2 separate regions of the Homo sapiens genome follow, and region 2 is linked to region 1. Evidence: fine-mapped expression QTL. A gene starts in region 1. The other region holds a variant in brackets. All regions are shown on one strand. Distances are from middle to middle. Region 1 holds the start of TRIB3 (tribbles pseudokinase 3). Region 2 has its middle 39 kb from the start of SCRT2.

Region 1 (11,732 bases):
GCTGGGTGTGGTGGCACACGCCCATATTCCCAGCTACTGGGGAGGCTGAGGCAGGAGGATGGCGTGAACCCGGGAGGCGGAGCTTGCAGTGAGCTGAGATCACGCCAGTGCACTCTAGCCTGGGTGACAGAGCGAGACTCCGTCTCAAAGAAAAAGAAAAAAAAAAAAAGAAGCTGTTAAATGAGACTTTCTCCCTGAGTCTTTGGAGAAACAGCAAGAAAACTGAAAGGGTTTAAGTGTATCACAATTATGATTCAAAGTTATGTCATACGGTATCTGGAGACCCTAAAACCCTCTGGCACTCAGCCATTGTTGTACATGGTATATTTCAGAAAACACTGACCTCACTGACCTACTCCAACTTTCTCTTCTTATTTTACAGATAAGAAATTTGAAGCCCCCGCAAAGGGAGGTGACTTGTCCACAATCTCACAGGCTCAGTGGCTTCAGCCAGACTTGGAACGCAACCAGAAGTTCTAAGGCATCATGTCACTTTTGTGGGGGAAATGTATGAAGATGAAAAGTTTCAAGGACACCTATGGTGGAATTTTAGGCATATGGCAATCACTAGGGACACCCATGTGGAAGGAAAGGAGGCAGGCATGGCTCATGTCATTGCTGTGGGCCCCACATCAGTGCTGGGGGTCAGAGACGGAACTCATCAGAACTATAGCAAAGAGGCCGGGCACAGTGGCTCACGCCTATAATCCCAGCAGTTTAGGAGGCCAAGGTGGGCGGATCATTTAAGGTCAGGAGTTCGAGACCAGCGTGGCCAACTTGGTGAAACCCCGTCTCTACTAAAAATACAAAAACATTAGCCAGGTGTGGTAGTCCACACCTGTAATGCCAGCTACTCAGGGAGCTGAGGCAGGAGAATTGCTTGAACCCGGGAGGCAGAGGTTGCAGTGAGCCAAGATCACATGCCACTTCCCTCCAGCCTGGGCAGCAGAGCGAGACACTGCCTCAAAAAAACAAACAAACAAACAAAAAACCAAACCTATAGGAAAGAGAAAAGCAGCCTTCTGGGCTCAGAAATCTGAGTAGAAAGATGTTCTGAGCCTGGAGAAAGAAATTCATAAAAGCCTGACTCTCTCTCCAGAAAAGAGTACATTTCTGCATTTAATTTTGGGAGGTTGGTCACCATTCTTTTCCTCGCTTCTAAATAAATGCTTATATAGCATTTATATTCCAGTCACTTTACAAATATTGTCATTTAATTCTCATGCAAACCAACGAGGTAGGAACTATTGTTATCCCCATTTTACAGATGGGGAAACTGAAGTACAAAGAGCTGAAGTAACTTTTCCAAAATAGATGTGGTTTTGAACCCAAGAAATGTGATACAACTATGACATGAGGCAGTCCCAATGCATTGAATCCTTATGACTGCAATGCAAGGGAGGTATAATTAACTGCATTTTATAGATGCAGAAACTGAGGCTTGAGGCTATTTGGTGTTTCTGGTGTAGATCTAGGAGCCAAACTCCAGCCTACCTAGACTCTTTGCCTCTGCTGTACCCCTGGACCATGTGTTAGGAATTCTTGGTACAGGGTGGTAGTGCTCAATATGGTAGTGGTTTTAGTCTGTTTTCTGTTGCTTATAACAGAATGTCTGAAACTGAACAATTTTGAAAGAAAAGGAATTTATTCCTTACAGCTATGGAGGATAGGAAGTCCAAGATTGAGGGGGCACTTCTGGTGAGGGCCTTATTCCTGGTCTCTGAAGTGTCTGGAGGTGGCACAGGGTATAGCGTGGAGAGGGGACTGGGCATGCTGACATGCTATGCTTTGGTCTCTCTTCCTCTTCTTATAAAGCCACCAGTTCTCCTCCTGTGAAAACCCACAAATCCATTAATCCATGAGTGGGTTAGTCCATTCATAAGGGCAGAGGCTTCATGATCCAATCACTTCTTAAAAGTCCCAACCGCTCAGTACTGCCACATTGGGGGATTAAGTTTCCAGCACATGACATTTGGGGGACACATTTAAACCATAGCAGTAGCCATTTGCCACATGTGGTTATTGAGCACTTCAAGTATGGCTAATGTGGCTAGTGTGACTGAGAATTTTTTATTTTATTGAATATTTTAATTTTTTTTTTTTTTTTTGAGATGGAGTCTCACTCTGTCGCCCAGGTCAGAGTGCAGTGTCATGATCTCGGCTCACTGCAACCTCCGCCTCCCGGGGTCAAGTGATTCTCCTGCCTCAACATCCCGAGTAGCTGGGATTACAGGTGTGTGCCACCATGCCCGGCAAATTTTTGTATTTTTAGTAGAGACAGGGTTTCACTGTGTTAGCCAGGACGATCTTGATCTTCTGACCTCATGATCCACCCACCTCCGCCTCCCAAAGTGCTGGGATTACAGGCATGAGCCACTGCGCCCAGCCTCACATTATATTTCTATTGGAACACAGAATGGTCTAGAGAATTGGGATTTGACAAACCCAGCTGTGACAAGTCACCAAAATTTGGGGGCCATACCCAGGGTGCCGTTCCTGTCACGATACCCATAGGTCCATGTGGAGGCTGCAGGGATACAAAGCTCGTGAAATATCCCAGGATGGCATGGGCACTGGAGTCAGCTGCCCCAAGTTCAAATCTGAAATCAGTCTTTTTGTTTTTTTTTTTTTTTTGAGATGCAGTTTCACTCTTGTTGCCCAAGCTGGAATGCAGTGGCGCAATTGGCTCACTGCAACCTCCGCCTCCTGGGTTCAAGCGATTCTCCTGTCTCAGCCTCCCGAGTAGCTGGGATTACAGGTACATGCCATCACGCCCGGCTAAATTTTTGTATTCTTAGCAGAAACCGGGTTTCACCACCTTAGCCAGGCTGGTCTCCATCTCCTGACTTCAGGTGATCCGCCTGCCTCAGCCTCCCAAAGTGTTGGGATTACAGGCGTGAGCCACCGCGCCCAGCCTGAAATCAGTCTTATACGACCAGCTGGGTGGTCTTGGGTAGGTCCCTTACCTTAACTCTTCTTGTCTGCAGAATGGAGGTGACTTACTGTTTTTCTCTGTCTCCCTTTCACATCTTTGCACTCTTCACCCCTTCTCTTCCCTCAGCTTTTAGTTTAAACATCACCTTTCTGATAAGCCCTGCTGAAAATGGCCACCCTCAGTCATGACGGAGAACAAGTCTTTCCTATTTTATTCAAGAAAATGCATGATGCAATCTATTTTAAATGATCATGGTTTTAATTTTATTTTCCTGATAATGGTCTATCTCTCCACTGATTTATAAGATTTGTAAGAGCAGGGGTGGATCATTCTGGTCACTGCTGAGTCCCCAGCATTTAGAACAGGGGCTGACACAGCACAAAACAACGTTAGTTGGGAATGTACAAGCAAACCCAGCACACCTTCAGAGGGGTGCTCAGGAAACAGCCCTCCCACCTTTCTTCACCCCTCACAGCTGTGGGATCTTCCTAACCATTTCGGTGTCCCAGGATAGAGGATGAGTTTATTCACCCCTCCCCAGCAGGGGAGTTGCCAGGATTAAATGAGATCCCAGAATGCCCTGGTATACCCTGAAGGCTCTGGGACACAGGTGAGCTGGTCCCCAGGGATTTGGAAACAGGAAAACAAATATGACTCCACCCTGCCTCCCATCCAGCCTCTGCCTAGAGGAGTTATTTTATTTTATTTTACTTTTTTTTTTTTTTTGAGACGGAGTCTTGCTCTGTCGCCCAGGCTGGAGTGCAATGGCGCAATCTCAGCTCATTGCAACTCCTGCCTCCTGGGTTCAAGCGATTCTCCTGCCTCAGCCTCCCGAGTAGCTGGGACTACAGGTGTGTTTTTTGTATTTTTAGTAATTTTTTGTACTTTTAGTAGAAACGGGTTTCACCGTGTTAGCCAGGATGGTCTTGATCTCCCGACCTCGTGATCCACCTGCCTCAGCCTCCCAAAGTGCTGGGATTACAGGCATAAGCCACCACGCCCAGCCTCTAGAGGAGTTATTTTACTTACTTACTTATTTATTTATTACACAGGATCTCACTCTGTCACCCAACCTGGAGTGCAGTGGCACAATCACGTTTCACTGTAACCTGAACTCCTGGGCTCAAGTGATCCTCCTACCTCAGCTTCCTAAGTAGCTGGGACCACAAGCTCGTACCACCATGCCCGCTATCTTTTTCTCTTTGTAAAGACAGGGTCTTACTATGTCATCCAGGCTGTTCTCAAACTCCTGGCCTCAAGCAATCCTCCCGTCTTGGCCTCCCAAAGTGCTAGGATTACAGACATGAGCCAGCTCACCCAGCTGAGGAGTTATTTTTTGACACTGGTGAATTCAGATCAAAAGGGATTTCTAAGAAAGGTGCTGGACCCAGGCCGGGCGCGGTGGCTCATGCCTGTAATCTCAGCACTTTGGGAGGCCGAGGCAGGTGGATTATCTGAGGTCAGGAGTTCGAGACCAGCCTGACCAACATGGAGAAACCCTGTCTCTACTAAAAATACAAAATTAGCCAGGCATAGTAGCGCATGCCTGTAATCCCAGCTACTTGGGAGGCTGAGGCAGGAGAATCGCTTGAACCCGGGAGGTGGAGGTTGCAGTGAGCCGAGATCGTGCCATCGCACTCAATCCTGGGCAACGAGTGAAACTCTGCCTCAAAAAAAGAAAAAAAAAGAAAGGTGCTGGACGCCTAGGACGCAGAGGGGTGTTTCACCCCAAATCAAGTAGCACCAAGCCCTCCCAGGCCTTGGGTGCAAGCATATTAAAGGCCTCTTTCCCTCTCTGTCTCCATTGTTTACACTCCACTGAGCATCCGCAATGTGCCACACACTGTTCTAAGCGTCTTACACATATTAAATTATTTAATCCTCACAACAACTTTATGAAGTGAGCGCAATTATGAGCCCATTTTATGGAGCAGGAAGTTGAGGCAGGGTTTTAGGTAGCTTTTCTGGGGTAGCACTGTGGGTTGGAGCGGAGGTGGAGTGCACTCTTAGGCCAGCTGGCTCTAGGGGCTCTTCACCACTAGGCCGCACTGCCTCTAGCAAAGGGACGCGGGGAAGCTCAGCAGACCTTAGGCCTCCCAAGGGCGCCACGGTGGTTCCTTTGAGCCCAGAGTCAGCTCTTAAGTCCATAGGCCTTCCTGAAGCTTCTGAACCACTTGCCCATAGCTGGGCCTCAGGCTGGCTCTCAGTAGAATGTGGAGAATGGAGATTCCCGCATGTCCACTTCTCCTAAAGGTTTTATAAGGCAGTGCTGGGAATGTGCTTTATAAAAAAGGGGAAGCACCCCGACAACAGTCACTGTTTGCTCTTTTAAGCACCATCCTGAGAAGGAGGAATGTTCTTCCCATTTCATAGGTGGGGAAACCGAGGCTCAGAAGAGCAAATTTTTGGCCGGGCGCGGTGGCTCACGCCTGTAATCCCAGCACTTTGGGAGGCCGAGGCGGGTGGATCACGAGGTCAGGAGATCGAGACCATCCTGGCTAACAAGGTGAAACCCCGTCTCTACTAAAAATACAAAAAATTAGCCGGGCGTGGTGCGGGCGCCTGTAGTCCCAGCTACTCGGGAGGCTGAGGCAGGAGAATGGCGTGAACCCGGGAGGCGGAGCTTGCAGTGAGCCGAGATCGCGCCACCGCCCTCCAGCCTGGGCGACAGAGCAAGACTCTGTCTCAAAAAAAAAAAAAAAAAGAGCAAATTTTTTTTCCAAGGTGATAGGGAGAGTCCGTGGCTGATGTCTGCACTGACCAGACGCCCCTAGGGGGCCAGCGAGGGCGGGTCCCAGGTGCAGCGGATGCAGAGGAGAGAGGCCCGGGCGCGGCGCGGGGGATGGTGCGATCCCGGGCCCGAGGGCATCAGACGGCGGCTGATTAGCTCCGGTTTGCATCACCCGGACCGGGGGATTAGCTCCGGTTTGCATCACCCGGACCGGGGGATTAGCTCCGGTTTGCATCACCCGGACCGGGGGCCGGGCGCGCACGAGACTCGCAGCGGAAGTGGAGGCGGCTCCGCGCGCGTCCGCTGCTAGGACCCGGGCAGGGCTGGAGCTGGGCTGGGATCCCGAGCTCGGCAGCAGCGCAGCGGGCCGGCCCACCTGCTGGTGCCCTGGAGGCTCTGAGCCCCGGCGGCGCCCGGGCCCACGCGGAACGACGGGGCGAGGTACTCGGCGGGGTGCGGCCTGCGGACTCGCCCGGAGGCCGGGGGGCGGGAGGGGGCGGCCGGGGAAGGGGGCGCCGGAAGCCTCTGGGCGTCTGCGTGTTGCCGCGTGTTACACGCACGCACGCCCCTTACACACCTTTTCACAGACCCCGCCGTCGGGGCGCGGCCAGGTCAGATCCCTTTTGATCCGGGCCTGGGCTGAGTGCTCCCCCCGGGCTTCAGGTGACGCGGCCCCGCGGAGCGTGGGGTCGCCCGAGTTGGGCTGGGGAAGCCAGGGACGGAGGTGTCCGGCCGTCACCCCTAGAGGAGGGCGTGCGGGGGTCTGTTTTGCGTGAGTGCGGGATAGGGGAGTCGTGTGGTGCGGTGAGGGGCTTGTGGGGGGCACTGGAGGACTCTGGGGGTGGCGGGGGATCCGAGGGGGTCCTCGTGAACCCGCAGGGGAGAGTCCTGGGTGAGGGTGGGTCCCGAGCACCTGTGTCTCAGGAGATGGTGAGAGCTGTCTGGAGGGCTGGGCACTTGGTGGCAGGGGTTGGCGGTGCAGGGGACACCGCCGGGACAGGGCTGGGGTGCCCTGGAGCGGGGGAGCCGAGGGAGTGGGAGCGGGGGCGCAGCGCGCGATCTCTGGCCCGGCAGGGCCGCTGGTTCTCCCCAGTGCGCGGCTCCGGGTTTGCAGGTGGACGGTGCGCGCGTGTCTGCGGTGTGTGCTGTGCCTGCAGACCGGGGAGGGCGGGGGACGACAGCCACCTCCTTCCCTCTGCCTCACCCCCCTCCTGTCCCAGGGCCGCGCTTCAATTTCCGCTGAAACTTCTGACTCGGACACCCGCCGCCTTTCGCTTGGGCTCCCACGGGAGGGGCCTGGCTGCGGGGGGCGGGGCGGGGTGGGGGTGCGGCCTTGCTCGGGTAGACCATGGGTGTGACAGCTGGGAGGGCTGTGTGTGTGTGTGTGTGTGTGTGTGTGCGTGCGCGCGCGCGCTTGCGCTTGATGTAACCCGCCCTCATTTCCCTGGGTCCCGAGTGTGGCAGGGAACAGCAAGAGGTAGATATTAGGGGCTGCTTTCATTCCACATCACAGATTCTATTCTGCAGTGTGGTCTGCAAAATGCCTTGCCCAAGATGTATAGACTCAGTTACCGCATCTGTCCCCATCTGGGTGGAGCTTATCCCAGGCCCCAACAGGCTCTGAGGGATGGCCGGGGCCAAGGCAGCCTGGACTACTGATGTGGCACAGGCCAGAGGGACTCCAGGCAGTCTCCTGCTGCACAGGGCACAAAGCATGTGCACAGCCAGGTATCATCCTGCGTGACTCAGAACAGCCTTGAGATGTAAGGAGTGTCATCCCAGCCTCGAACCTGGGGAGCTTTCTAAGACTCCCAAGGATGGTACTTATGCATCTTGCTGTGAAGAATAACAGGATGAGTGCTAATAATGACCATTTCCTGACACCTACCTGGCAACAGGTCCATAAGCTCTACATGCTTCATTTGTGTTTTCATTTCATCATCACGAAAAACCTGTAAGCTTTGCATCCTGTTCCCACTTTACAGGAACTGAGGCTCAGAAAGCTTGAGGAACTTGACCAGGGGTACCCCCCAGCTAGAAAGGGTTTGAGACAGGATTAGAACCCAGGAATATCTGACTACAGCCACTCCTTACTGCATTCTTACCAAGCCAAAGTCATGACCTTTCACTCATGTGGGGAGGCCTTCCCTTCCAAGGCAGCTCTTCCATTTGGGAGCAGCGTACTTGGAGAGGTGGGCCTCTGTCTGGTAACTGACTCATGTTGCCTTGTTAATCCTGCCTTGAACTGTTGGGAAGGTCTTTAACCAGGCTGAGGTCTCTCGCACCAATGCCCATACCTGGGCATGCACCTCCTTGGAATGGAGTTTAAGTGGGTGGGCAGATGGGTTCTAGAGAGAACCCGTCTGCCCTGACCATGCCCTACTGCCCTCTCCTTCAGCCACCACACACACAGTCACACAGCTGCGTGAATGGTGGCTTTCCTTTCACTTAACAGTTCACTCTGGAGATCCTTCCAATTACCCTATAAAGAGCATCCTCAACCTTTTAAATGGCTGCACATTGTTCCGTTGTGTGGATGAAGTATAATTTATGTAACCAGCCCTGTAATTATAGACAGCCAATTATTTCTGTCAAAAGGGCTGCAGGAATAACTGTGTATTTGCATGCTTACACACACACACCTCTACAGAATAAATTCTTAGCAATGGGATTAATTGCTGAATCAAAGCTCACACGCTTTTCATCGTTGTTTTTGTTTTGTTTTGTTTTGCTTTGTTTTGAGACAGTCTCACTTTGTTGCACAGGCTAGAGTTCCTGACCATGGCTCACTGAAGCCTTTACCTTCTGGGCTCAAGTGATTCCCCTACTTCAACCTCCTGCATGGCTGGGACTACAGCTGTGTGCCATCATGACCAGATAATTTTTTTTTTCTTAGGGACAGGGTCTCGCTACGTTGCCTAGGCTGGTCTTGAACTCCTGGGCTCAAGTGATCTTCCTGCTTCAGCCTCCCAAAGTACTGGGATTACAGGCATGAAGCACTGCACCCAGCCTGTTTTTCATTTTGATATTGTCAAAATGCACTCCTCAGAGGTGGTACCTTTTATCCTCCCACTAGCACTGTCTTCATTGTTAGTGGCTGCACTGCCACTATTCCACAGTATAAACCCACTTTTCATGACACTGCCAAGACATAAGGGTCTGAAATACTTAACAGTTTTCTTCCACAGTCCCCAAAATACAGGCTTCTCCCCCAGCTCAGGACATGAAGCCATCATCCCTCCTCATTGCAGGAGCCAAAGGCTGGACCTCACCTCGATTCCACCCTCTCCTTCACCCCTCACATCCAATCCATCCAGTCCATCCAGTCTGCCACTGAGTCCTCTTGATCTTCCTCCTATGAGCCCTTAACTTCGCGTCTCCATCTAGCACCCCCTAGTCCAGGTCACCTTCTCCTGCCTGGACTCGTGCTTGTGTGGGCCTCCTAGCTAGTCTCACTGCCCCGTCTTGTACTTTCAAATCCACCCTAAAAGCATGATGTTCCCCTGCTGAAATCCTTCAGTGGCTCCCCACTGCCTTTGGATAATTCCAAATCCTATTGTGTGTTAATTAGGATTAGGCTCAGCTGTAATATAGAAACAGCCACTTAATAGCTAAAATGAAATAGACGTTTTTTTCTTCTTTTTCTCTTTTTTTGAGACAGAGTCTTGCTCTGTCCCCAGGCTGGAGTGCAGTGGCGAGATCTCAGCTCACTACAACCTCTGCCTCCCAGGCTCAAGTGATTCTCCTGCCTCAGCCTCCCGAGTAGCTGGGACTACAGGCATGCACCACCATGCCCACCTAATTTTTGTATGTTTAGTAGAGATGGGGTTTCACCATGTTGGCCAAGATGGTCTCGATCTCCTGACCTTGTGATCTGCCTGCCTCGGCCTCCCAAAGTGCTGGGATTACAGGCATGAGCCACTGCGCCCAGCCTTCAATAGATGTTTATTTCTCTCCTGTGTAAAAAACCTGGAGGTCTGGCCTGACAACTCCATGTGTCAGGGACCTAGGCTCCTCTCTTGCTCTACTGTATGTGGTACTTCTGAAGCCAAGGTAGATGCTGGAGCTCCAGCAGTTAGGTCCACATTCCAGCATACAGGAAAGGAGGAAATGAGGAAGTTGGGCCCTCCCTTTAAGAACACTGTCCTGGGCATTGTACACAACACTTCCACTTGTGTCCTACTAGCCATATGCTGATACAAGGATACAAGGGAGACAGGAAATGCAGTTTATTCTAGGTGTCCTTGTGCTCAGCTGAAAATCTCAGGTTCTAATCCTATGTAAGGAGGGGAGACCTGAAACTGGGGACCACTAACCACCTCTGCCATATGATGCTCGTAGAGCCCTTCACAATAGGGCCTCTACTAACCTCACCTTATTTTTATTTATTTATTTATTTTTGAGACGGAGTTTCACTCTTGTCGCCCAGGCCGGAGTGCAATGACACTATCTCAGCTCACCGCAACCTTTGCCTCCTGGGTTCAAGCAACTCTCCTGCCTCAGACTCCTGAGTAGCTGGGATTACAGGCGTGTGCCACCACGCCCGGCTAATTTTTGTAGTTTTAGTAGAGACGGGGTTTCACCATGTTGGTCAGGCTGGTCTCAAACTCCTGACCTCAGGTGACCTGCCTGCCTCGGCCTCCCAAAGTGCTGGGATTACAGGTGTGAGCCACCACGCCCGGCCTATTTTTTTTTTTTTTTTAACTTTTCACTTTTTTTTGCAGTCACGCTCATTCTCCACCGTGTTCTTGGGGAACATGCAGCATGTTCTTTTGCCTCTTCCCTCACCCCAGAACAGGGGTTACTGGACAGCGGCATCAACTTCACCTGGGAACTGGATAGAAATGCAGATTCAGACCTTCTGAATGAGCTACTTTGGGAGTAGGGCCCAGCAATGTATGTTGAAACAGGCCTCCAGATGATCTCAATGCTTGCTCAAGTTTGAGAACCACTGAACCGCAGTATGACTCTCCGTGTCACCTGGCTAACTCTGCCTCACTTTCAGGTCTCAGTGTAGACACCACCTCTTCTAGGAAGACCTCTCTTGACCCACCAGCCCAGGAGAGAGGCCTCTCTGGGTTCCTAGAGGCCCATGCTTCTCTGTATAGTAGGGCTGATCACACTGTATGTGATTTTTTTTTTTTTTTTTGAGAGAGTCTTTACTCTGTCACCAGGCTGGAGTGCAGTGGCACAAACATGGCTCACTGAAGCCTCAACCTCCCAGGCTCAAGCAATCTTCCCACCTCAGCCTCCCAAGTAGCTGGGACTACAGGCATCCACCACCACACCCAGCTAATTAAAAAAAAATTTTTTTTTGTAGAGACAGGGTCTCACTATGTTGCCCAAGCTGGTCTTGAACTTTTGGGTTCAAGCAGTCTTCCCACCATGGCCTTCCAAAGTGCTAGGATTACAGGTGTGGGCCACTGCACCTAGCCTTGGACGTGATTTTATTACTCATCTGCCCTCCAAATTGACTGGAAGATCCTGACGGCAAGACTGCTGTCTAACCTACTTCTCTTCCTAGCACCCAGTGTTAAGTGAATGAACAAGATCATATCTCTCATCTGTGAATGTACGAGAGCCATGGATTATGAGATTAGTTGATTTTCTTAACTATAATTTTTAGAAACAAGCTGTGTTTTTAAGCAGGTATTTATTTCCTTAAATGTACATTTCTGATTACAAAATACTTTTTTTTGAGACAGAGTCTTGCTCTGTCACCCAGGCTGGAGTGTAGTGGCACAATCTCGGCTCATTACAACCTCTGCCTCCTGGGTTCAAGCGATTCTCCTGCCTCAGCCTTCCCAGTAGCTGGGATTACAGGTATGCACCACCACGCCCGGCTAATTTTTTTTTTCTCCCGTGACGGAGTCTTGTTCTGTTGGCCAGGCTGAAGTGCAGTGGTGTGATCTCAGCTCACTGCAACCTCCACCTCCCGGGTTCAAGTGATTCTCCTGTCTCAGCCTCCCAAGTAGCTGGGATTACAGGCCCACGCCACCACGCCTGGCTAATTTTTCTATTTTTAGTAGAGATGGGGTTTCACCATGTTGGCCAGGCTGGTCTCAA
Region 2 (11,732 bases), 330 kb after region 1:
GCTTAGCAAAACGAGCCACCCTTCCCCATATGACTCAGATAAGACGTAGTCCCCTCTTTCTAGTGTATCCTGTAAGACTGGAGGATGACTCCCTTGCTGGCCTGTGATCTTTCCCCTTTTGCTGGAACCTGCTGACAAGGCCAAGGCCAAGGACCCTCCCACTTCCCATTCTTTGTCTCATGGTTGATTAGCTGAGATGAGAACTGTGTGTCCTCTCTGAAACTAGCTAGACACAGAGATGAACATTTCCTCTTCAATGGACTGATGGAGATATCCCCTATTTGTAAGACAATCCCCACTTTAAATCCCTCCTGCTGTAACCTGTCTCCTCACCCCTACAAAAGTCAAAGGCAAATCCATCCTGTCCAGACACTCTGATTTTGGGATCTGGGATGCTCTCCCTGTTGCAATAGCATGAATAATACCATCAACCCCAATTCTTCCGTGTATTTTGTCTTTGACCCTTTCCACCGTGCTGTTTTCCACCTAAGGCTCTGAGCTAGGTAAGAGCCCTGTGACCTTGGAGTACTTCTCGGGCTTCTCTGTACCTTAGGTTTAAAACGGATGCGCACAGGCGTTATGTCCTCAGGTTGTGAGATAAAAGGAGACGACGCCAGGGAAACGCTCGGTCGCTTGGCACTGTGCCCAGCAGCGTGAGTGCTCCAGAAATGTCAACCATTGTGAGTCCAGGAGAGGAGAGTGGCGCTCAGAGAGGGAACGGGACCTGCCGGGAGACTCACAGCGGGAGGAAGGGGGAGTAGGGCGCACGTCTGGTGACCTCCGCCCCCAGCTGTGGGAGTGTGCCCTGTGACCCCCTCATCCTGCCTTTGGATCACGAGCTGGGGTCGGGGGAGGGGATGGTGGGGGGGACACTGCTCGGTCCTCCACTCCGTGTGCCCTGTGACCCCCTCATCCTGCCTTTGGATCACGAGCTGGGGTCGGGGGAGGGGATGGTGGGGGGGACACTGCTCGGTCCTCCGCTCCCCTCCGCCCGCCTTTGATTGTGGTGAGCAGCGAGTCGCGGAGCAAATTAACTTTTCGCACACTTCATTATGCGCCGTCCCGCGTCCCCCGGGGCCGAGGCCCGCGCCCCCGCCCCGCGCCGACAACTTGATTGGGCAATTAATCTTCGCGCCCCCCACACCCCCTCCCGGCCCCGGGCCTTTGTGCGCCCGAGCGTGGGCCGTGGGCGCCCCCCGGGCCGCCCGGTCTGCTGGCGCAGATAAGGCGCCCCTCGCCGCGCGGCCCCGCCTTTGTCAGGGCGCCCGCAGGCCCGGCCGCCGCGCTGCCGTCTCGCACCCCATCCGCGCGCCCCCGCCCCTTGGCTCGGTCCATCTGTTTGAGCTTCACAATCCTCCAGCGGCCGGGGGCTGGGGGCGGGGTCTCGCTCTTGGGCAGGCAGCCAGCACCCCCTCCCCCCGGCCCCCCCACCCAGCCCCCAGACACGCGCGCGCACGCCCACTCGCACGCGGGGCCGCCCTGTCAAGCAGTGCGGTATTAATTAAGAAGGTGGGGGGGAAGCACAGCAGCAGTTTGAAGAATTGTGGGGCGGAGGGTTCCCAGCGGTGTCCAGAAAAGAGGGGGACCCTGCCACCCATCTCGTACCGCAGGTGCTTAACGCCTGGTTATTGGCTTGGGGATCTACAGGCTCCCATGGCTGGGGGTGGGGGTTAGGGGAGGTGGGAGGTGGGAGGGAGAGGCCTGGGAATTTGCCTGACAGTGTCTCTTTGTGCATTTTTCTGGGGTTTTGCCAGCAGTTGACCCAGCCTCAGAAAGGTAGCCTGTGATTCAGGTAGTGTTGAAAACCAGAGGCCCAAAGGCAGGATAAATCTGGGCCTATTTTAGAGGCCAATAGCGTGGTGGTTCAGAAAGGGGTTCCAACAGTTCTCCCTACTCGCCGTTGAGGATTTGCGTCAGGTAACCACCCTGCGCCCGGGGCGGTGGAGGTGATGGGCTGAGACCGTGTTGGCGCAGTGCTGGGTACACGGTGAGTGCTCACAAGTGCTGGTTCTTGCTGTTTTCTGTGATTTTCCTTGGAGGGGCACAGGGAAAACCAAAAATGGCTGGTGCTGGAAAGAGGCCCTTGAGTTTCATCTCACAGCTGGCGGTAGGGTGAAGCTTGGCAAAAAACCTGTGGTCTGTGCTGAGCTTGGGGCTGGGTGTGTGTGTGTGTGTGTGTGTGTCTATGGTCTTTGAGAAGTGTCTTCATCAGCATATGACTTGTGTGAGTTTTTGGGTAGAGAAGGCACAGCCTTCACTAGTTTCTACAAGAAGGGTGTGATCCAGTGTGCGAAGAATCCCTGTGTGCAGGGCTGGGAAATCAGCTTCATCTCTTCCATCCAAGAACAGCATGGCTGGCACGCTTATTGTGTGCGGAGTCCACGGTAGCGTCCCTAGGTGCTAGGGACAACCGTGAGCAGAGCAGAGTTCTTGGCTGCCTTCACAGACTCGCAGTCTCCTTCGGAAGATGAATGAGAAATAAAATAAACATGTAAGACATGAGGTAGGTCACTAGGTGACATGAGCTTTAGATAAAAACAAAGCAGGGCACCTGATTAGGAGGGTGGGCCCTACTTGCCAGACCCCTACCCTCATCCCCAATACAGTGTGTATCATTGCCTGGGCAGGAAAGGGCCACACTCCTGGGTCTAGGGAACTAGGTCCCTAAGTAGCCTCATGTCCCCACCCACTAGGACCCAGCCTCCAGCCAGTTCTGTTGCATGGGGCAGGGTCCCTGGGAAGATGGGCAGGCCTCAGACTGCTGCAACCTCTGCCCCTAGCCCTGAGGTGGTGGCAGTAGTGTTTCCCTCTGATAATGACATACTCCAGTCTTGCATGACCACGATGCCTCATGAGCCCACAGTCCAGAAGGGGCCTGGTGAGCAGGAGCTGAATTAAAATGGAAAATACGGCCTCCCTTCCCCCCTTCCTGTTCCTCCCCACTTACTCCCTTCATTCCTGCTGCTCCTGAAGCCATGGGTGAATAGTTTCTCAGTCTCTTTGCCTTGCTGAGCTGGGTTAGTTGGGTTAGCAGGATGGACATCTCCTTATGGATACTAGAGTTAGGAGACACCCAGAACCAGCAGGTGGGATTTTAGAAAGTGCTGTTTGGCTCTGACCAACCCCTACTCCCACCCCATGCATAGCAGGGTTAGTTTCCTCATCAACTCTGGTCTCTGATTCTGATGTTCTGCCCCTAAGCATCCTACATTCTAACATTGTATTCTTCTGACTTTTTAGAATTTTCCCATCCTATGCATCTTACACGAATATGGTGAAGTTCTGATTTCCGCCCTTATGTTCTAGATTGAGTCTTCAGTATTAATTTTGTTGGGGTCTACCCATTCAAATAACAATAGAGAAAGACTATGTGCAGAGTCACATAATACTAGTCATGATAGTAGCAATTAACATCCTTTTGACCTTGGTTTTATTTAACAGTTTTTTTTTTTGAGAATTTTCTAAGCGCCAGACACCATTCTAGACATTATACAAATAAATAGATAAAAATGAATAAATAAATAAATGTTATTTTAGAAGGTGCAATTGAAATTGAGAGTCAAGGCAGGACTCACTAAGAAAGTGACAATATTTTCTTTCTGCTTTCAGTTATGGAGATTTGAAATCTCAGTTGATAAGGTGGATTTATTTCTCCTTGCAGGTCATTCACTTTTTCCTTCATGTATTTTGAATCTCTGCTATTGGGGGCATAAATATTTAGAATTGTTATATGCTCATGATTAACTGACCTTTTTTTTTTTTTTTTAGATGGAGAGTCTTGCTCTGTCGCCCAGGCTGGAGTGCAGTGGCGCAATCTCGACTCACTGCAACCTCCGCCTCCTGGGCTCAAGAGATTCTCTGGCCTCAGCCTCCTGAGTAGCTGGGATTACGGGTGTGCACCACCACGCCCAGTTAATATTTGTATTTTTAGTAGAGATGGGGTTTCACCATGTTGGTCAGGCTGGTCTCAAACTCCTGACCTTGTGATCCACCTGCCTTGGCTTCCCAAAGTGCTGGGATTACAGGCGTGAGCCACCGCACCCAGCCTTGACCTTTTTAATCATTATAAAATGACCTTATCTTTCCTGGTAATATTCTTTGCTCTGAAACAAACATTGTCTGATATGAAACTAGCTACTCCTCCAGTGTTATTTTGATTACTGTTACTTTCCATCTTTGTACTTTTAACTTGTGTGTTTACACTTAAGGTGTGCCGTTTTGAAGGTTGGGTCTTATTTTTTTTTTTTAAAAAAAACAATATTTGGGTCTTATTTTTTTAAAAAAATCCAATCTAACAATCTCTGCTTTTTAATTGAGGGTATTTAGACCATTTACATTTGATGTGATCATTGACGTGGTTAGATTTAAGTCTATCATCTTGCTATTTGTTTTATTTTTGTCCCATCTGTTCTTTGCTTCCTTTTTCTTCTTTTTCTGTCTTCTTTTGTATAAGCTCAGTTTTTTTTACTATTTCATTTTAACTCCTCCTTTTTTATTATATCGTTTTACCTTCTCTGTTGGTTTATTAACTGTAATGTTTTGTTTGTTATCTTAGTAGTTACATTAGGCCTTATAAGCCTGGGTACGGTGGCTCACACCTGTAATCCCAGCACTTTGGGAGGCTGAGGTGGGCGGATCACCTGAGGTCAGGAGTTTGAGACCAGCTTGCCAATATAGTGAACCCCTGTCTCTACTAAAAATACAAAAATTAGCCAGGCATGGTGGTGCATGCTTACAGTCCCAGCTACTCGGGAGGCTGAGGCAGGAGAATTGCTTGAACCTGGGAGGCAGAGGTTGCAGTGAGCTGAGATAGCACTACTACACTCCAGCCTGGGTGACAGAGCAAGACTCAAAAAGAAAATCATGTAATAGTATACTTTCATTTCCTTCCTGGCCTTCTTGCTGTTGTTGTCATACATACATATGTGTGACAGACTCCACAAAATGTTATTATTTTTGTTTAAATGCTAAGTTATCTTTTTTTAAATTAAATAATCAGAAAAGATTTTATATATTTAACTCATGTAGTTAACACTTCTGGTGACCTCCATTCCCTTATGTAGATCCAGATTTCCATCTGGTATCATTTTCCTTCTGCCTGAAGGATTTCCTTTATCACTTCTTGCAGTGCAGATCTGTTGGTGACAAATGCATTCAGCTTTTGTATGTCTGAAATCATCTTTATTTCATCTTCATTTTTAAAAGATATTTTAACTGGGTATAGAATTCTAGAT[C/T]GGCAGGTTTTTTCTTTCATTAGCTTAAAAGATGTTGTTGCTTCACTATTTTCTTCCTTAAATTGTGTCCAACAAGAAATCTGCCATTATCCTTATCTTTGTTTCTCTATACTTTACAAGGCTTTTCTTTCTCTGACTGTTTTTAATATTTATCTGTTTGTCACTGGTTTTGAGCAATTCGTTCATGGTGGGTAATTTCCTTCCTGTTTCTTGTGCTTGAGGTTCGTTAAGCTTCTTGGATCTGTGAGTTTATAGTTTATATCAGATATGAAATATTCTCAGCCATTAATTTTCTATTTCCTCTCCTTTGGGGACTTCAAAGACACATATATTAGGCTTCTTGAAGTTGTTCCATAGCTCCTAATACTCTTGGTTTTTTGGATTCTTTCTTTTTCTCTGAGTCGTCGATTTTGGGTAGTTTCTATTGCTACATCTTAAAATTCTCTAATCTTTTCTTCTGTCACATCAGCATATTTTTCATTTCAGACATGTAGTTATCATTTCTAGAAGTTCAGTTTGGGTCATTTTATATCTTCCAAGTCTCTCCTTAACCTTTGAACATGCAGACCATGAAATACAATTTGAATACTTATTTTAATGCTCTTATCTCCTACTTCTGTATCAGTTCTGGGTCAGTTTCAATTGATTGATTATTATTCTTGTATGGGCCATGTTTTCTTGCTTATTTACGTGCATGGTAAACTTTGGATGCCAGGCATTGTGAACATTACCCTTGTTGGGTGCTGTACACTTTTATATTTCTATAAATCTCCTTCAGTTTTGCTCTAAGATGCAATTAAGTTACTTGGAAACAGTTTTATCCTTCCTAGTCTTGCTTTTATAATTTGTTGAGTGGGTCCAGAGCAGTGCTATCTGTTGAGGGCTAATTATATACCACTGTTGAGAAAAGACCTTCCTGAGCACTCTACCCAGTACCCCAGAAATTATGAGGGTTTTTTCTGTTTATTAATATTTCTGGTTTTGTGTGAGTGCTGAGCACTGTTCTCTAATCTTATCAGATGATTTTCACCCCTACTTCAGTGTAGTTTTATCATACAAAAGCACCAACCAGTACTCAGTCTAATACTCAAGGGGGACTTTCTTCATATCTCTGGAATAGTCTCTCTGTGCAACTCTTTCCTCCCAATACTGTGTCCTGCAAACTCTGCCCTCTTTGTCCTTCCTGGACTCTCAACTCTATTTCCTTAACTCAGGAAGCCTCCTGGGTGCTGCCTGGGTTCCTCCTCCCTGCACTAGGTTCTGAAAACTCTCTCCAAGCGGCAAACTGAGGCCATGATAGGGTTCATCTTATTTCCCACTTCTCAGGGATCATGATCCTTTATTGCCTGTTGCCTAGAGTCTTAAAAATTACAGTTTCATGTATTTTGCCTGGTTTGGTTTGTTTGTTTGATTGTTTCAAGCAGGAGAGTAAATTCAGTTTCTGATACTCCATCTTGGGTGGAAGCAGATATGAGAAGGTGACATTTGAACACAAACTTGAAGGAGTTGATGGAGTGAACCAAGAGGATATGGGAGTGGGGAGAGGAAGGAGATTCTAGGCAGTGTGAACAGCAAGTACAATGGTCTCCTGCGTGTATAGCTGAGAGTGCGGGTAGTGTGTTTGAGGAAGGAAGGGAGCACGTATGGCTGGAGCAGAGAGTTATGTGGGGAAAGTGGGGAGAGGGAGGGATGAGGTGTCAGCTTGTGTAGGACCTTGCAGGCCATGGAGAGGATTTTGGCTTTTACACCAAATGAAATGGGAGCCATGGGAGGATTTTGAGCAGAGGGAGGACATCTTTTACAGGATCTCTGAATCGATTGGATTAACTGAAAGGGATAAGAGGGCAAGAGAGAAAGCCAGAGACTTGCTGGGAACCAGTGCACTAAGCCAGGTGAATGCTAGTGACTCAGACACATGAAAGGACACACTACCAAGGGGGTGAATAACTAGGAGCGGGGATGAAGGAGGCTTCTGGGGTGCTGTCGGTGTCTTGTATCTTGATCTGAGGGAGGTTACATCATCTGCTCACTGTGTGAAGATTCATTGAGCTGGATGTACACGTCTAAATTGTGTTCACAATTGAATTGAATACATGAATATATTACTATATAAATATACTATATACATATAAAACTTAGAAAACAAAGTAGGGAGATGAAGGTGGCTTGGACTAGACTGTTATCAGTGGAGGTGGGAAGAACTGTATGCATTCTAGATCTCTTTTATATGTAGATCCAATAAGATTTGCAAACAGATCTAATGTTAGATGTGAAGACAGAGAATAGTCCAGGATAATGTCAAGTTCTCTGGCTGAGCTACAGCAAAGACTGAGGACCTGCTGTGTACCAGAGCTTGGGCTAAGCTCTATTAACTTCTTTAATCTTCATGACAATTCTAGGAAGTAAGTCTGGCAAGAGCTGCTTCTGAGGTTTTTGTGGGGCTACTGGGAGCCTTTCCACCAGAAGTGTAGTTTGTGTGATGGATTCCAGAGGTAGTGGTGGCCACCTTTGCCTCCATGAGGTTACAGGCTGCCTGAGAGTGAGGCCTACAAGAAAGAAATCAAAGCCATGATAGAGAGAGAGACAGGATCCTCACAGTAACATGTCAGCACCTGGATTCAGCCATAACAGAAGCCAGTGCCCTGGGCTTCTCAGTTATATAAATTAATAATTACTTTTTTTTTTATTTCTTTCACTTCTAACTGAAGAGTCCAGACTGATACAACTTCTTCATATGTGTCCCCTGTCTGCACCATCCAATGGACCATCAACAGCAGCTACATCCTCTCCTTACCGTTGCTTGCTTGCTTTTTTTGAGACAAGGTCTCTTTCTGTTGATCAGACTGGAGTGCAGTGGCATAATCACAGCTCACTGCAGCCTTGACCTCTTGGGCTCAAGCAGTCCTTCTGCCTCAGCCTCCTAAGTAGCTGGGTCTATAGGTGCTTGCCATCATGCCCAGCTATTTTTTTTTTTTTCATAGAGACAGGGTCTCACTATGCTGTCTAGGCTGGTCTTGAACTCCTGGACTCAAGAAATCTTCCTGCCTTGGCCTCCCAAAGTAGTGGGATTACAGGCGTGAGCCACCGTGTTTGGCCGTCCTTACCATTTCTAATGCCTGCTCTGCACTTTCTCTCTCTGGACCTTTGCTCCTACAGGTCCTCCTTTCCAGAATGCCTTTCCTCCCTTACCTTCTGCCCTCACATCAAAACCAGCCCCCTACTCAAAGCCATCCTAACTCCACCAGCTGAAGGATGGAGCTGGCAGAGTGCTTAGATATCAATCCATTTTACAGATGGGAATACCAAGGTCACTGTGAGACAGGGCAGATTTGTGGTCAGGACTCCCGCGTTCTGACTCTCTGAGACTCTTTCCATGATCCTCCAGGACAGCCTTTTCTGTGCCCTCCCTTGCGTGGGGTTGAACAGTACTTTTCACAACAATTTACACTCTCCCATACCCCAACCCTTGCACGTGCTGTTTCCTCAGTCTGGGATGCCCTATTCCATTCTGTCCTTCCGGAAAGGGTGCCACTTGAACTTGGAGATTCAACTCAAGGATCAGACTTCCAGAAGCCTTCTCTTTTTCCCAGGGTGGCTCTGTGTCCTGCCTGGTACTCCCACAGCTGCCTCTGGTACCTCCATGAACCCATTTATCCATTTGTTTTTTAGGTGTCTGTTTCTTGTTTGCCTCACCTGTTAGGTAGGGGAACTGAGGCAGACCTCCTGGCCAAAGAAGGCTCCCAACTGATGTTTGTGAATCAACATAGAGTGAGAAAGAGCCCCGTGGAGTGGGGCGGGGGGTGGAGAGCCAGCGCTGGGCGTGGAGGCAGGACGCCTGGGCTCCAGTCCAGCCACCACCACTCTAGTGTGTGGCCTCATGCAAGTCATGTCCTCTCCTTGAGCCTCAGGCTTTTTTGGCAGTAAAAAGGGCAGAACATCATAGTAGTTAATACCTCAGGCAGCCTGGATTTGAATCTTGGCTGTGTGACTTTAGGCAGTTTACTCCAGCTCTCTGTGCCTGTTTCCTCATTTGCAAAATGGGGGCAATAAACATATCTGCATCATAGGGTATTTGTGAGCATTAAATGAGTTAATGTTTACAAAGCTTTCAAACCATGCTTGCTTGGCACATCATATAAGCATCCCAGAGTGAGAACCATTAAACAAAAGAAACCCTTCCCTTCCTGAGAGGAGAGGAGAGCTTGACAAACTCTAAAGTGGCGTGTGAGTGAACTATGGTCACTCTCAGGGGGTAAGCTGCCTGGAAAAGGCTGACTCTGACACTGACTAGTGTGTGTCTTTGGAGAAATCATGTCACCTCTCTGGGACTCAGCTTCCCCATCTATCAAATGGAGGAGTTGGTCTAGCGCAGTTGGAGTTAAAGTGCTTTGTCTCTTTGAGTTTTATGTCCATGTCAGTAGAGTGGGCTGAGAGCTGCATGTCTGTCATGCGCTCCTGGTGAGAATGAAATACGATGATGGGCCGGACGCGGTGGCTCATGCCTGTAATCCCAGCACTTTGGGAGGCTGAGGCGGGTGGATCACTTGAGGTCAGGAGTTCGTGACCAGCCTGGCCAACATGGTGAAACCCTGTCTCTACTAAAAATACAAAAATTAGCCGGGTGTGGTGGCGGGCGCCTGTAATCCCAGCTACTTGGGAGGCTGAGGCAGGAGAATCGCTTGAACCCGGGAGGTGGAGGTTGCAGTGGAACCAGGATTGAGCCACTGCACTCCAGCCTGGGCAAAAAAGTGAGACTCTGTCTCAAAACAAATAAATAAAATAAAAAATATAATAATAAATAAATAAATACAATGATGTCTGGAGCACTTGCCAGTCATGCCTGCCACATAGCAAGTAATCTGTCATAACTGTCACTGTTATTCTGGCCCTGACATTCCAGGGTTCCTTGAGGTGGGGCAGGATGAGGGATGGGCTGGGCATCATGAAGGAAGGTGCTGATGTATCACCTACTGACAGTTTAGAAAAGGGAAGGCAGCCATGTGACCCACAGGCAGTGTCCCCCTGCCTGAGCCTTATTTGCAGGGCTGTGGCATCGGTGAGCAGGACAGGGACCACCACGCCCACTAGAGAAAGAAGCACGTGCTGCTTTTGTGAGTTCACAAAGGTCTTGGTTTTCCAGGGCCAACAGTGTCCCCGCCACACGTGACCACCTCAGAACCATCACCTGCCACCTGCCAGGGCCTGGGAGTTGGAATCTGAGGTGGAAGGAGAGAGCAGGGGCCAACTCCTGGCTGCTCCCCTCTCTTGGTATGTGACCCTGGGCAAGCCTCTGCACCTCTGTCCCCTTTGTCCTCTCTTGTCACATAATGAGGTTTTGAGTGTCTTAGATAGGGAGGATGTCTCCCTATCTAAGGATAGGATAGGATAGAAATGGCCAGGCCCTGGTGCCTCTGCTAGCTCAGTCTGGCTGGGACGACCTGGGAAGAACATGGCCTCAGTTCCAAAGCCAAGGCGGCTCCTGGGGGAGCTGCAGCTGGAGGCTGTCAGCTTGCTGCCCTCCTTGCTGCTGAAGGACAAGCTTTTTCTTGAAGATAGGATGGATAGGATGTCTCCTATCCATCAGGAGATGCGATTATTGGCCTAGACTGGGCAGGGTCTCCACCTGGGCGACGGGTTGGGAGGCGGAAGTGAAGCTGGTGGCATGAACCATTCTCAGTGACCTTTCACCAGGGTGAGTGGGAAGTAGTTGGGAGCATCGAGGCCTCACTCTCCATCCTGAAGATGGAGCACAGACTGGCTGGCTGAGGCCGGGAGCTCATCACGGGATGGAGACAGATTGGCAGACAAAGAGGAGGCGGGCGGTTGGGGCTGGGTGCCCCTGGGGAGGAAGGCGGGGAGAGAGCGTAGGAGCAGGAGGAAAGAAGGCTGGGCTTATGTGCAGCCTCACAGACTGGGCCTGCAGAGTCTCCAGCTGGAGGTTGGGACTGGACCTTCCTCCTGAATGGGCAGGGAGGGAGGCTTGTTGGCCTAGCCCTCGGGGTTCTTGAAATAAATGAGGGAGGGCCTTGGGGGGTGGTAAATTGCTGAGGCTGTGATAAACATTCTCCCCTTCCCACAAAACACACACAGGCACGTGTGCGTGCATACACATACACACACACACCCTGGCCACACTGCTGTGCATATCTTACTGATTGTTGTCCTCTGTGACAGCAGTTCTCCAAGTTGAGTGCATTGGAAGGATCAGTTAAAATGCAGATTTCCAGGCATTTCCATCTCTAAATGTAGGGTGTGGCCTGAGAATGTGTATGTCTTACAGGATCCTGGTTGATGCTGATGCTGGGGGTTCTGGGACACACTTTGAGAACCACTGCTCCATTGAGCAGCCTTTCAGTTTGGGTGCCCCTCGGTGCTGGTGCTGGGAGAGAGTTAGGAGGGCAAGGGGGTTAGTGAGGGCTGCTACCTGTGAAACACAAAGCAGGAGGGAATGGAATTGGCCAGGAGAGCCTCAGACCACAGCCCGGGCCTGCAGAGTCA

The links. PIP is the estimated chance that this variant, and not a neighbour inherited with it, causes the effect. A credible set is the group of variants that fine-mapping cannot tell apart.
Region 2: its variant is the best candidate, but not a certain one, in a credible set for the expression of TRIB3 in left ventricle (GTEx, PIP 0.68).

Annotation. Positions count from the first base shown.
Region 1 is chr20:375,063-386,794 of GRCh38, forward strand. TRIB3 (tribbles pseudokinase 3) reads left to right here and starts at 5,698. Exons shown (of 4, transcript NM_021158.5): 1 at 5,698-6,107. RefSeq lists silencers at 5,982-6,141, 6,162-6,271, 6,542-7,131 and an enhancer at 6,817-7,815.
Region 2 is chr20:708,962-720,693 of GRCh38, forward strand. No RefSeq gene overlaps it. Among named protein-coding and RNA genes, the nearest start is that of SCRT2, 39 kb to the left of the region's middle. RefSeq lists a silencer at 31-231 and an enhancer at 10,934-11,438. The variant C/T (reference allele first, on the strand shown) is at 5,235.